2 linked regions of the Homo sapiens genome follow. The protein of the gene in region 1 interacts with the protein of each later gene in a pairwise test. Each region holds a gene or a part of one and is shown on either strand. Other genes may lie near its edges.

Region 1 (7,028 bases):
TGTGCCACCTACTGTTCTAAGCCTTTATGTATTTCATGGACTCCTCGAATCCTTCAACAACTCTGTGCAGCAGGTGCTTTTTAAGACCAGCCTTGAGAAACTATATTTAAACGCCCAGTCAATGAGAATGAGCTGATAAAGGAGCCTGAGAAAGAGTAGACTTGGAGTCAAAGAAAGAAGAATATGAATCATTGAAGCCAAGGGAGGTTTGAGTTTTTGAGAAAGGAAGGAGAGATCAACTATGCTACTGAGAAACTAATGAAGATGAGGAACGCTAAATGTCTTTTTTAAATGGAGATGATGAAGTGAAGGAAGAGTGGTATTTCACAGCGGGGTGGTGGAGGCAGGAGCCAGATTAGAGTGGCTCTAGAAGGCAGTAGAAGGTGAAGAAAAGGAGACAGGTGGATTCCTTTGTCTGGAAAAAGGAGAGGCAAAAAGAGGCAGTAGCTAAAGGGGAGAGTGGAGTGAAGAAAGATTTCTTAAATATAGGTGCTAATTGAGCAATCAGTGTGATAGAAAGGATTCTATAGAAGGGGGAAGGAGAAGGAGGAGAAAAGATGATAATCTGTAATGTTGCTTGCTTGCTTTCTTTTTTTTTTTTTTTTTTTTTTTTTTTTTTTTTTTAACAGACAGGTCTCTCTGTCACCCAGGCTGGAGTGCATTGGTGGAATCATGGCTCACTGCAACCTCAAATTCCAAGGCTCAAGTAATCCTCCCACCTCAGCCTCCTAAGTAGCTGGGATTACAGGCCCGCACCACCGACACCATGCCCAGCTAATTTTTTTATTTTTATAAACACAAGGTCCTGCTATGTTGCTCAGAAACTGTCTTAAACTCCTGGCCTCAAGCAGTCCTTCCACCTTGGCCTCCCAAAGCACTAGGATTATAGTTGTGAGCCACTGCTTCTGGCCCTATAGTGTCAGCATTCTGAAAAAGTGGAGGCAGATGGACTTCATACCACAGGGGGATGGATGGCTTTAGGTAGGAGGCAGGACATCCCCTCCTGCAATTAGAAGGGCAGGCAAGATGGGGTTTCTCTTTGGTGTAAATACAGCCCTCCATCATCTGAGGAGAATGGAGATTTGAATAGTTGTTTGGGGCAATGTTGAGTGGGTGCCCAGTTGAAATTTGCAATTACGTATTTAAATAAATAACAAGGGGTACGAGTTCCCGTTGTTATTTATTTTCTCGCAGCAATGCTCAACTACCTAGGGTCAGGCAGAGAGAGAGAGTGGGTAGTTAGGATCATCAGAATTTGGGGTAAGGGGGTGTGAACAAAACACAGAAACAAGGGCTGTCAGGGTATTGCTTAAGCTGATTATCCTTTCAGTGGCATGATGGAAGAAACAGTTCCGAGAAACTTTGTGGGTCCCACTGCCAGTGGCCATGTTGGCCACTTTGAAAGTTACAGTCACAAGAGCCAGCCTGCTTGCATTCATATTCTGGCTCCTCCACTTAGGGACTGTGAAACCTTGATCCAGTGACTTAACCTCTCTCTGCTCTCAGTTTCCTCCTCTGTACAAGAGGGATGACGATAGTAGTACCTACCTTCTAGGGTTGGTGTGAGGATTAAATGAGCATATATATTTAAAGCCCCTAGAACAGTGGCTGTTCAGTGTCTAGAACCCTTAGTACATGATTATTTCTCACCATACTATATTATTATTGTTATGAGGAACACTCCAAATTATAAACTTAGAGTTTTATTTAATAAAAATGGTGAACTCAAGACCATATGTTTTTCAAACTCATCACAATAGATCCTCTGTTGCTTTTAAATACCTTAAGTAATTTGATCATTCAGAGCATCTGAGAGACTACAGGGCATGCCTCACTATTCTAATAATTATATTTTACAGATGAGGAAATGGAGACTCAGAGGGCACATGGCTCGTTAGAGGCATGAATTGAAGCCTGGATCTCCAGTATGCTTCCCACCTAGTGAAGTTGCCTCTCCAGGAGCTGTCTGATCTGTAATTAATTCTTGTTTTCTGCTCAGACATTTTCTTTTGCTTGAAATGCTGCTGCTGCTGTCTCACCCACCTAATACAGGCCAAGACTAAAAGCAAACTAGTATTCTTCTGTAGCAATTGATATCATTTTGAAACTCCCATTTTCCAAATCCACTTGAAAGATGCCTTGTGCTTTTATGTACTTTCTGTTAGCAAAAACTGGCAAGTCGGCTGCTGATGGTGGTAAACTATCTTAAGAAACAGAATCCCTTAAATAGAAGGACAGCCAGTTCCTTGTAAACCCAAATAAAAGCCAGTGCTTTATAATGACTGTTTCATTAGTGATGTCTTCAAGATTTGGCATGTAAGCCACTCTTTTGTATGTGATGGGTTATTTTCATTCAATAGTTTGGTCTGGCATTAATGAACTTCCACTTCCATCTCAGCTGTCACTGAGCTTCTGAACCTGTAGGGCCATACCATGCCCTGTTTCTTTGGAGGACCTCCAATTGATACTTCGCTGTGACTTAAGACATAACAAAAAATCAGGGGTCTAGACTTTAAATAGGTGGGTGGAAAAGAATAGGTGGGATGAATTTTTAAATGGGATAGGTCTTTTAAAAAGATGAAAGGGGAAATGCTGTATAGAAGACCAGATCGTTTGTTAGTACTTTGTTATCTTTGTATTCAAGGTGGAGCTAGTTAACACTAAATTTAATTCAGTGCAATGAGGGTTAACAGAAGAAGTTCATGATGCTCAATAGCTGATGTTTTACAGAAACATCAAGATCAATTTTACAGGAATGCCAAGATCAATTCTTATGCCATGATTTTCCTGGAAAATAATTTATTCTGTATATATGTAGTATATATATATATGTAGTATTCTGTATATATGTAGTATATCATTTGGTAGCTAGGCTGCTGTCTGATAGGGTAAACTGTCTTAAGTACAGAACCTCTATGTAATCCCTATATGTAATATTGTAATTAATATAGACAAGGGACTGCATCTAACTTTCTGTTCATTATTGGCACAAATAGTAAATAATATTTGGAAATGTGTCTATATTTGTCAGGTGTGTGAATGTACATAATTTTTGTATTATTCTGCTCTATATCGTGTATAAATTTTTCATTCTAAATTCACCTTTCATGCTTCATTCTGGCAGGGCTGAATGTCTTATGCATAGCCAGCTAACTAAATTCTTAAAAGGTGAGACCAATAAACAGAAATCTCAAGGCAGCTACCCTACTGCTGTTCCTCTTGCCTAAAAAAAACTTGTCCAGAGTACAGACTTGTCCAGAGAACCCTAATGAAATACCTGGTTATTCTCTGAAATGGTTTGAACCTATTTATTATGTGCAGAATTGTTTCAAGCTTTGTAGTTTGTCTTTCCTAACCGTATTTCTAGTAAATAAGCTTTTGAGGTTATTTGGAATATATTTTAAGAGCTATAAAAGTATTTATACCTCAAATCAGTCTATATTTCCACCCATGATAATTTTTCTAAGGAAAAGAAAATAAATATAAAGCCATATTCATAAATACCTCATTGCCGTGTGTTTTGTAAAGGTGAACAACCAGGAGCGATCATTTAGCCAACAAAAGGGTTGAATAAATTATAGTGTATTAATTTAAAATGATAATTACAGGAAATGTGTAGCAGCATGTTATGATGGTATCAAGTGAAAAGAGCAATTCAAAATTGTGTCTCCATCATTATGGCAACTGTGTACAAATTGCATATACTGAGGATCAGAGGCTGGAGAGCAGTGGGAGGCTGTAGGTGACTTTCTGTGTGTTTCCGTTGTGACGGTGGACCCGGGTGAAAGTTGGACAGCAGAGCTGGGCCATCCGTCACGGAGAGAGGGGTTTGTGTTTTACACTAGCGAGCTTGAATTTCATCCAGAGAGAGACATGATCAGATTTATCCTTTGCAAAGATTGGCTGCTGTATGTGGAGGGAACTGCAGCAGGATCAGCGTGATTGTCAGAAGGCTGACCATTCGGCGGGCCCAACCCGGTGGTGCCCTTAGTCTCTAGAAACGTGGAGGGACTCATAGAGGGGCATCAGTTATGCCAGCACCTGTCCCAAGACACTAAAATACTGTTGCACTTTAAGATTCTTGAACTATGTTTCAAGTGTAAATTTCATTCTACATACATATCCATCTGTATGCAGATCTTTAAAATGTATGCATATGTGAATCCCATCTGCTTCAAGAGAATTTGGAAAATCCTAGCTGAAAATACACATTTTAAAGAATAAAAGAAATAGAAATATCGCCATTCTTATTGTGTGTTGTATTTGAATAGTCATGACATTTCTTTAAAGTCTGTCCATCTTAAGATGATTTTATTGTAATCAAGTTGTTTTCCTGTTGCATCTACCACAGTGGATATTTGCTGAGCAGTCACTAAGTTTATATATAATTACATTTCCAAGTATTGTTCTAAAGTTTATGTCCTGAATGGTTCCAGAAAGAATTTAATGCACCAGTACTGGGTTACAAATCCTGGGCTTCAGAATGTTGCTAATCCTTGACCCTCCCCTCTCTGTTGTCTCCCTTAGCTAGTATGTCACCATGTGCTAGCCAGTCAATCCCTTCTGCCTTCGGAGTCCTTCCTCTCCACCCACCGTGCACACTCAACTTCAGTCACTAATCATTGCTCACCTCCTGGCCTCTGTACAGATAGTATCACTTTAATTTCCTAGTCAATAAAATATTGAATTATATATATATATATGAATGCAGTTTGTAATATATAAAGGGATATGCAAATGTTGGTAGTTGTTATTCTTTCCAGTTTTAAAATTCATTGATTCCATGACTACTAAAGTATTTCATTTGTGAAAGTGAAAACCACATGTTGTTTTCTTCCATTTTGTTCCTCGACCAATAAATCAATGCAGCATTTTGAGTGATGTAGGTTATTTTAATCAGTAAGAGGCATGCTGCTTATGATTTTTTTAAAAAGTTTTGCATGTACTTTTTTAAATGTGGCAAGAAGTTCAATGGAGTGAAAATTGGATGATTCAGGAAAGGCAGCAGGAGACTAAGGAGATAAAAGGAATGTATATCTATAAAATTAAACATAATTAAGCAGTTTATTTGCATAACTTCGTCCCCTAACTTCCATGGCAGAATAAATCCCTACGTGCTAAAGTGATTAATTTCCTACTGAGAATGACTTTGGGACACTAGGGGAAGAAAATAAGTAGCTTCCATATCAAATTTGTTGCCAGAGAGGAAAGTCTTAACAGCTACAGAAGTAGGGCAGAAACTTACTAGAGATTAAGCAGATCCTTGGCCAGAGCCCCACTCTTACGGAGGCTGAATGCCAGCAGCTGATTTCTCAGCATAGAAACTGAAAGGGCGATTTCACCCCAGCCTTAGCCTGCCTTTTCCCTTTCCCGATCACAGCTCACATCCTGTTACTCTAATATCCAGCAGGCTTTCTTCTCAGATGGAACTGAAATCAGTGGAAATATCATTGTGCCTTTGTTTCCTGGTGGTCAGCCCCACCTTGAATGTGGAAACCTTCGCAGCTGAGGTTCCCTCTCTCCTCGCGCTGGGATCCTCTGCTTATGTTAGCAAAGAACATTTCCCCATGGTGTTGTGCGAATATTTGAAGGGTGCTCATTTGCAGTAACCTTTGGAGTGAATCTGTGAGTGGTGAATCTGTTGAAAACTTTGGGGCTTCTCCCCAGAGAAATAACCATTCAATATTTTTGCTAAACCTTTAGATGGCTTCTTCCAAACCTCATCAGAGGAATTTGCAGAACTCACATGAGAGCCCCCAGAATTCTAAAGTTCCTTTAAAGTTTTCTTTCAAATTCAGACATAACTTTATTTTGCATAAAATGAGCCTTAGCACTGCAGTTTTTAATTGGTGACATTTCTTTACCAGCTAAATGCTACTTACCACTGACTGTTTAAAATTCTGGCTTGAATAAATCATTTGGATAAAGAATTCTACTAACGCTGAGGTCTTGTGTTTCAGGTCCGACTACAGCCACCTGTCCTCCACGAGCAGTAAGTATCTTTTAAACATCCTTCAGCATTGTCTAACGGTCCCCGGAGAGGTCAGTACCCTAGAGGCCATGTGTGTACATGGTTTTATAGTAGGTAAGAATCACCAAAGCATCTTTGCCAAAGAATGTGGTACAGGATGCTGTAACTCTGGAAGTGGAGGCTTTTCCTGGAGAATCTGATCATACAGAAATTCAGCCTGAAGGATGTAACCCAGGCTTTATCAGCTGCTTGTGGATGCTTCTAGGAGCATCATCTCTGAAGAATCTGAGGTAGCGCTTTCATTGAACAAACATCTATCAGATACCTGCTACCCTCAGGCAAACAGAAAGCTCAGAGCACAATTCCTGGATCCCTGCAGTTGCTCCAGCTCATCTCTTGCAAAATCTCTTCCCTTGCATGTCTGCATCTGCAGGCAAATATCCTTCCCTCTCCAATGGAGGGAACATCTATCTCTGGCAAAATCCTGCGAAGTGTGTTAACAGTTGGAACAGTTATAGCTAAAGTGGAAAAGTGATAGCTAAATTCCCTAATTATAACCTACATTGGTTATACATGCCAATACATATGTACCAATACGTATGCACATTGATATACATATATATCAGTATGTATAACCGATGTAGGTTGTAATTAGGGAATTTAGCTATTACTTTTCCACTTAAATGTGGCTAAAAGAATACAGACATTTTTATCAATCCATCATCCTGTATTTGTAATTCCTGGCTTATAAGTGGTTATTATATGCAGCAGAAAATGATCAGGAATATGTTTACAAAGACACTCTGGTTATTAAAAAGGTGCTTATATTTAATATTAAAGTACAGGTAAATTTACTCATGAGAAATTATGCCTCATAACTAGAAAGAATTGAGAGTGATTAAGATTACTACATAAATGACCAAAGCCATTCAGATTGATTGAATACTTATTTTAAATTAACAAAAGTAATTGTCTTAATATAAAGGCCCTGATTGTTTAAATCAGTAAATATTAAATTGTTTTGCCCTATCTCACTAGCCTGTTAAACTCTGAATTC
Region 2 (7,028 bases), on another chromosome or scaffold:
AAGCGCAGATCATGAGAAGAGACCAATCTGGCTATTCCCCTGAACCCAGCCATGTTCTGTGCGTGCACCCGCCCCCAACCTCATACTCAAACACACAGCCCTCCTGTCTGCCCTGACATGGGTCATAGCCTGCCTGTCTCCACCTCACACTTGTGCTATTGCTGTGTCCAACCTGTACCAACCCTTCCTCTGTTAAAAATTCAAGACTGCCGGCTGAGTGCAGTGGCTCATGCCTGTAATTCCAGCACTTTGGGAGGCCGAGGTGGACAGGTCACAAGGTCAGGAGTTTGAGACCAGCCTGGCCAACATGGTGAAACTCCATCTCTACTGAAAATACAAAAATTAGCCGGGCATGGTGGCGGGTGCCAGTAATCCCAGCTACCTGGGAGGCTGAGGCAGGAGAATTGCTTGAACCTGGGAGGCGGAGGTTGCTAGTGAGCCAAGATGGTGCCACTGCACTCCAGCCTGGGCAACAAGAGCAAGACTCTGTCTCAAAAAAAAAAAAAAAAATTCAAGACTGCCTTCCCTAATCCAGGCTTTACATCCCTCTCCTCTGATTAAAAAAAATTTTTCGCTGGGCGCAGTGACTCATGCCTGTAATCCCAGCCTTTTGGGAGGCCAAAGCGGGTGGATCACCTGAGGTCAGGAGTTCGAGACCAGCCTGGCCGACATGGTGAAACCCTGTCTCTACTAAAAGGATAAAAATTAGCCAGGCATGGTGGCATGTGCCTATAAGCCCAGCTACTCGAGAGGCTGAGGCAGGAGAATTGCTTGAACCCGGGAGGCAGAGGTTGCAGTGAGCCAAGACTGCGCCACTGCACTCCAGCCTGGGAGACAAGAGCGAGGCTCTGTCTCAAAAAAAATTTTTTTACTGGGTTAAAATATACGTAACACAACATTCACCATTGTAGCCATTTTTAATGTACAGTTCGGTAATGTTAAATGCATTCATTTGTTCGTATTGTTGTGTAACCATCACCACTATCTATTTCCAGGACTTTTCATCACTTGAAACGGAAACTAGGTACTTATGACCTGTAACTCCCCATTCTTCCCTTTCCCCAGCCCCTGTAGCCACTGTTCTACATTCTGACTCTGAATTTTCCTATTCTAGGTATCCCATATAAGTGGAATCATATATTTGTCCTTTTGTATCTTCTCCTCTGATGTGATAGCCCTGACAGGCCCTCCCAGTTTGTTATTAGATTATACATTATCTTGTGTTGATGTTCAACTTTTTCACCCACGTGACTCCCATCTTCACCAGACCAAGAGTTCCTGGAGGGCAGTTTCTCTGCCGCACAGGCGAGCACAGCACTGGGTATGCCGTGGGATTCAGTCAACTCTTACTCGATAGTCAAGGGAACTGCTGACTGACTCACTGAGTGAGTGAACAGTGAATGTGTGGGGTAGTTACAGGAAGCTGGAACCACTGGGGAGGAGACATACCTGAGGGCATCCGTTCTGGCTGACGCGAGGCACGTCAAAGTTCATCATGGACGGGATAGGGAAGGACAGTGGGGTGATGGGCAGCCCCACAGAGGCCAGGTCCCTGTTAGCCTGGCTGACCCTGGGGAGGCAGGGAGACAGGGTCAGTGCTCTGGGCTCTGCACCTGAGCCTGGCAGCCCAGGGCCCCCCGCTTAGACTCTGGGTTGATGCAAGAGAAGGGAGTTGCAGGGATCCCGCCGAGTTCGGGCCTGGACCTCACGACAAGTGGGGACCACTGGGCTGGGCGTGCATCAATCATCTTCCTTCCTCCAACAAGCAAGGGGGCTTCATAAGTCATAAAAACTCAACAGGAGATACAGAGAAGTAGGGGAGTCATCTTGGGCCATCAGGGCCAGTTGGAAGTGACCAAGACAGACCCTGACTCCCAGGAGTCGGTGCTGTGGCAGAGAGCACACGTTCATAGGGGAATTTCCCACTGTGTGGCAAAGTATGAATCTCCTCTTGAGGACTGTGACTCCAACAGACTCAAAAGGAGGTCTAGGGGAGGAGGGGATGAGTTGTGGCTGGGACCAGGGAGACCTCCAGGATGAGGAGGGAGGAGACTCCGCCCGGCAGGGCTAAAGGCTGTGAAGTTCCAAGATGGCCTTTGGGGCCAACCACTGGCTGGAGCCTGTGGCCCTGAGCTAGAGTGGGAGGGGGAGTGGGGAGGTGGTGGGTGTGAGGCAGGGAGGCAGGTTGGAGGGGCTGAGGTTCCCTGAGCAGGGAATGAGGACCCCTCTTGTTGTCCTCCCCACACTCTCTAGCTGTTAGGCCTGGTATCGGCACTCATCCCCACCACCTGCCCTCCAGCTTGCTCTCAGGAGAGGACTGAGCTGCCCCTTTCCAGGGGCCTGGGCTCTCCCTGGGGAAAGAAAGGCATGGTCTGCTGCAGGAAGCTTACTGGGACCTCAGACCCAATGGAGAGGCTTGAAGGGCCTTAGGGGTAGAGGGGTTGCCGGAGGTCCTGGAATCAGCCCATGGCAGCAATGACAGCCTCACCCCCTCCTCTGCCCTCTGCTCTGCCCTCCTCACCCAGGTCCACCTGGGCCCCACTCACTTAAATTCCTTGTAGTTGGGAACGACCCGGGCAATCACCACTATGGGGTTGGGGTTGTTGGCCAGGGGCTCGTTGACTCCCCGGAGAAAGATCTGGAGAGGAGAGGAGAGGAGGCAGGTGAACACCATGTGGCCTTGGGACCTTCCAGAGACAGCCAGCCAGACTGCCTACCCTCTTTTTCCCCATCCGTGAGCTCATGGCTGCCTCCACACTTGACACCTGCTTCTCCCTGTTCCCTGCCTTACTCGGTTCTTGCTTTGCACCAGGCTGCCCTCCCTCAGGAAGCCTTCTCTGCCGAGCTGAGGCAACTGCTCCCGCTTTCTGTCCTGGGATTTACCAATGGATCTCTTACACTAGTTTCTTTGGGGAGAAAGGGTACGATGAGAGTTGGGTCCTGGGAAGGGAGGTTGTGTTCTAACCTCGGCCCCTCCACTGGCTCCTGGGGAGGGGTTGGGCTAGGGGTAGGGCTAGGTGTTCCAGCTCCTTGGTTTCTGTCAGTCAAATGAGGCTCCTCCCAGGGCTGTGAGGGGTCTCTGATTAGATCGTTTGTGAGAGAGCACTTTATAAACTGAAGACAGGAAGCCCAGGTCTGGTTTCTCCGACCATGCTGAACTTCCTGAGATCAGCGGCCACAGCCAGGCTCCCCTTGCCTCCCTCGTGCCCATCACCCTGGTGCCTGCTCCACTGCTCACCCTGGTGCCTGCTCTCCTGCCTTGCTGGTTTCCCCAGGAAGTACTGGTTTGGAACAGGATCATAGCATCCGCATCTCTGGGCTCCTCTTTCTTCATCAGATCCCGGTTGTCACTCCCCTGACCGCCCTTGGTTGTTCCCTCCTCAGTCCTCTGTCACCCCCTAAAGGCTTCCCTGCCTCCCAGTCCTGACTGCCCTCTCCTCTACTCCAGGCTTCTATTGGCGCAGCTTTCAGAGAGCCGAGCGGGGTCCCAGCAGGAGGTTACAAAGCAGGAGTGGACAGCGTCACCTTGCTCCAACCCTCACTGACCCCCTGCTCAGTCTGGGCCTGGGGGACACTGGAAGGCAGACAGGGGAGACAGGGAGTCTGTCCCCATGCGCCTCTGCTGCCAGCCTAAGAGGCCCTGATCTCCCGGACCCTGACCCTCACCCTGTATCCACCAATGGCTCCCACTCTCCCTCAGCCCTCACCCACCTCCCACTCGGCTCTCATTCCTCTTGCTCCTTCGATTCCTCTGCCTCCTCACTAGCCTCTCCACTTCTGTTCCTTTCCCTAATCCATCCTCTTTCCCAGGCAATTTGACACATGATGGCAAAAGTGCTCTTGTTAAAAATGAACTGGGTCACGTTATTCCCTGCCCGACACCCCACAAGCCCCTCTGCCGTGTCTCCCGACAGGCCCCCAGCCCCTGTCTTCTTGCTCCAGACTCTTTTACTCCTGCCACTTACCCCTCTTATTTCTGCCACAGGGTCTTTGCACATGCTGATCCCTCTACTCAGACTCCCTGCAGCTCCCACCAACCCATTGTGGCTGGCGAGGGCCCAGGAGTGAGGCTTGTTCTGGATCATTCTCCCTTTTCTCCCTCCGCACCCTCCTTTCAGGCTCCTCTTTCAATACCCATCTCAGCTGGTTTTCCCACCTCTAACCCCACACAGGTGTGAGCTGATGGGCACGTACAATAGTCCTTAGGGCCTCGCAGCTCTCACTGAGGGCTCTGGAGACTGAATCCCTTCATCACATTCAAAGGATTGAATCTCTGATGGTACATTTCACACTTTGGATGGGTCTGGGGTCTGGGGCTGAGGGATTTCACTGGAGGCTGGCAGGCCCTATTGCTCACAGGCTCCCCAGCAGGTGTAAGACTAAAAAGGGGGTGGTGGCAGCTAATTTGCACCTGTTCTGTGTGGACTCTGATCAGGTGTGAATGAGACAGCTGCCCAAGTACACCTGCTCATGACAGCCTGGGAAGTAGCAGAAGTTCCTGCTCCTGCCATGCGCTCACCATCAGGAGCAGGCAGCTGCTCTGTGGCCATACCTGTCGCACGGATGGAGAGGGCATCTGTGCTGGGGCAGGAGAGTGGGCAGGGTGCTGTGAGCCAGAGAAGGCCCCTACTCTACCGCTCTACCAGGCAAGTCAGAGGGCTGGGTGGGGTGGGGCAGCTCCACAGCAGCCCTAAAGTTCTGCCTGTGTCTTGGGGATGTGGCCTCCTCCCTGTGGGGTGCGGCCTGGGGACAGCAAGGCCAGGCTGTTGCCCCTCTTCCTTGTTCTGTGTGTGTGTGAATTGCTGGCTGTCCTCAGGAAAGGGCGTGATAGAAGGTGGCGGGGAGCAGAGGGCGCCTGTAGGTCTGATATGCTGGCATCAGAGGGGTGGCTGTAGGGGAGTAGAAATGTGGGTTAGGAGTTTTGGCTCCCATACCATACTCCCCTTGGGTCTCAGTGTCCCTGGCTGTGAAAGAAGGCAAAAGAATGCTTCCTTCCCTGCCAGGCCCACGGTGCTGGTGGGAAGTAGGGGGGTGGGAAGGATAGGAACAGATCAGCCATGTTTGGGTAGGTGGAAGCTCAGAGCTTGGGTCCTGTGGCTCCCACCCTGATCATACTCAGGCCATAGCTGAATTTGAATCTGTCACCCATGGGCAGTTTGAAAGTTGGGGGGAATGGGAGAGGGGCCAGGTCCCTGCATCATGTCTGCTTTGAGCATCAAGAGTTCCTCCCAAAGCTGCTAATTGGCCTAGGGGGTGGATGGTGATGGGTCAAGGGGCAGTGGCCAGGCCCAAGGTGGGCTCAGCCCTGTCCTGGCTAATGGAAGAGGCTCTGTAAACAGTTGCTGGATGAATAAATGAATGAATAAACTAAATACCTAATCGCCAGACCAGTCAAACCTCTTTAGACACAGTGCTGAAGGAAAGCTCAAGGAGGCCCTAAACTTTTGCTTGGGGGCCAAGGCACTATCCCAGGAGGGGAAGAATAGAGCAGGAAACTGCTGGGCTGTGGGCTCAGGGGGAGCACGGGGCTTCTCCCCTGCCCCTAGCATAAGATTCGGGGAGACAGGCTCTGGTCCCCACTGCAGCACAGAGACGGTACACCAGGAGCAGCAGTGTGGCTGAGCCCCTCCCCGCCACCTCCAAGACAGAGAGGGAAGGAGAAGAGGCTTGAGCATCTTCATCCTTGTCATCCCTGCCAAAGGGCTTGTCTTCACAACTCCTTTTGCTATTTTGGAAAGGCCTGGTTGCTTTTTCCATTCTTGACATCTCTGCTCCACACCCTCAGGTCAGCCAGAGGGGGCTAAGGGCAAGGCGTGGGGCCTGCTCAAAGCTTGGCCCTTTCCCACCCCCACCACCACCCCAGAGGGCCCCAGCCCTGGTACCTCCAGAGCCATGTGGTTGCAGCCGATGTAGCGGGGTATGAAGCTGCTCTTCCGAACGACTGTTGCGTACAACTGGGTCTTGGCAGTGGCTTCATCGGCTTTCCCAGACTCAGTGGGCTGGAGACAGGGTTGGGGCAGAAGACACAGAGGAAGGAGAGTGTCTAAGGGGCAGATCCTGGCCATAAATCCAGCCCTCTGCAGACAATCACTTGGCATTGCTCCGCTGGGGCTCCGAGCTGATAATTAAAGCTCATGGTCCCTGTGAGCCCTTCCAAGGAGATCAATATAATAAATCTTCCCTTTTCCATTTGAATATTTCATCACCCTCACAAGGACCACTGCCTGTCTGCTTTCCAGTAAAGATGTGATAACAAGGCCTGGGTTGTAAGTGAACAGACAGCCAGGGGGCCTGGGTGATGCCCCCAGAATTACAGCTCAAGTGCTGAGTCTCCCAGGGTGAGTAGCACATCTCTCTTTTACTTCCCTGCATGGCCCATCCTGAAGCCCTGGGATTGGGGTTCCTCATGGGGCCTAAGAGAAGGTAAAGCCCCCTGGTGCCATGATTGAAGAAATGCTTAGAAGAAAGTTCAGTGCTGGCCCGGAGGAGGGATGGGGGAGGGTAACTGACCAAACTGAGCACCTACTGTATGCCAGGAACCTTGCCTATCATTGCTTGAGATCCTCAAAACGACTGTGCCAGCTTTGCCAGTGAGGATGGAGGCCTGGGGACCAAGTGGCTTCCATGGGTATCCAGCTAGGAGGCAACAAACTTGGTCTAGGACCCCCGACAGTCTGGCTTCACATTGTTCTTTACTCTCAACCACTTTCAGGGTCTGGAATGCACAGTGGGGAGGGGAATGTGATGCTTCTGTTCATCTCTGGCTCACTACCTGGCACATAGTAGGTGCTTCATAAGTCCTTGAGCAATGAGAGAGTGAATTCTACCCCTTACCCTTCAGCACTAGGAGGGAGGACAGGCAGGGGTCTGGCCTGGGAGGCCCAACCTTGGAGTGAGGAGCCTCAGGCCCCTCAGTCCATGGCTTGGACCCAGTTGCTCACTCCAGGGGTGCATTCCAGGGAATGCTTTATTCCATGTACCCCCCAACTCTCCTGGGCCTTCTGGCCAAGGCAGCATGTGGAGGCAGC

Evidence for each region. Proteins that work in one complex are often made in the same cells at the same time.
Region 2: the proteins of FAM124A (region 1) and CCDC33 interact in a two-hybrid assay, tested with the Homo sapiens proteins (2 studies listed by BioGRID and IntAct).

Annotation. Positions count from the first base shown.
Region 1 is NC_000013.11:51,225,388-51,232,415, forward strand, and holds part of FAM124A (protein FAM124A), read left to right. Parts: intron 1-5,960; coding exon 5,961-5,992; intron 5,993-7,028.
Region 2 is NC_000015.10:74,267,313-74,274,340, reverse strand, and holds part of CCDC33 (coiled-coil domain-containing protein 33), read right to left. Parts: intron 6,000-7,028; coding exon 5,883-5,999; intron 2,639-5,882; coding exon 2,547-2,638; intron 1,571-2,546; coding exon 1,450-1,570; intron 1-1,449.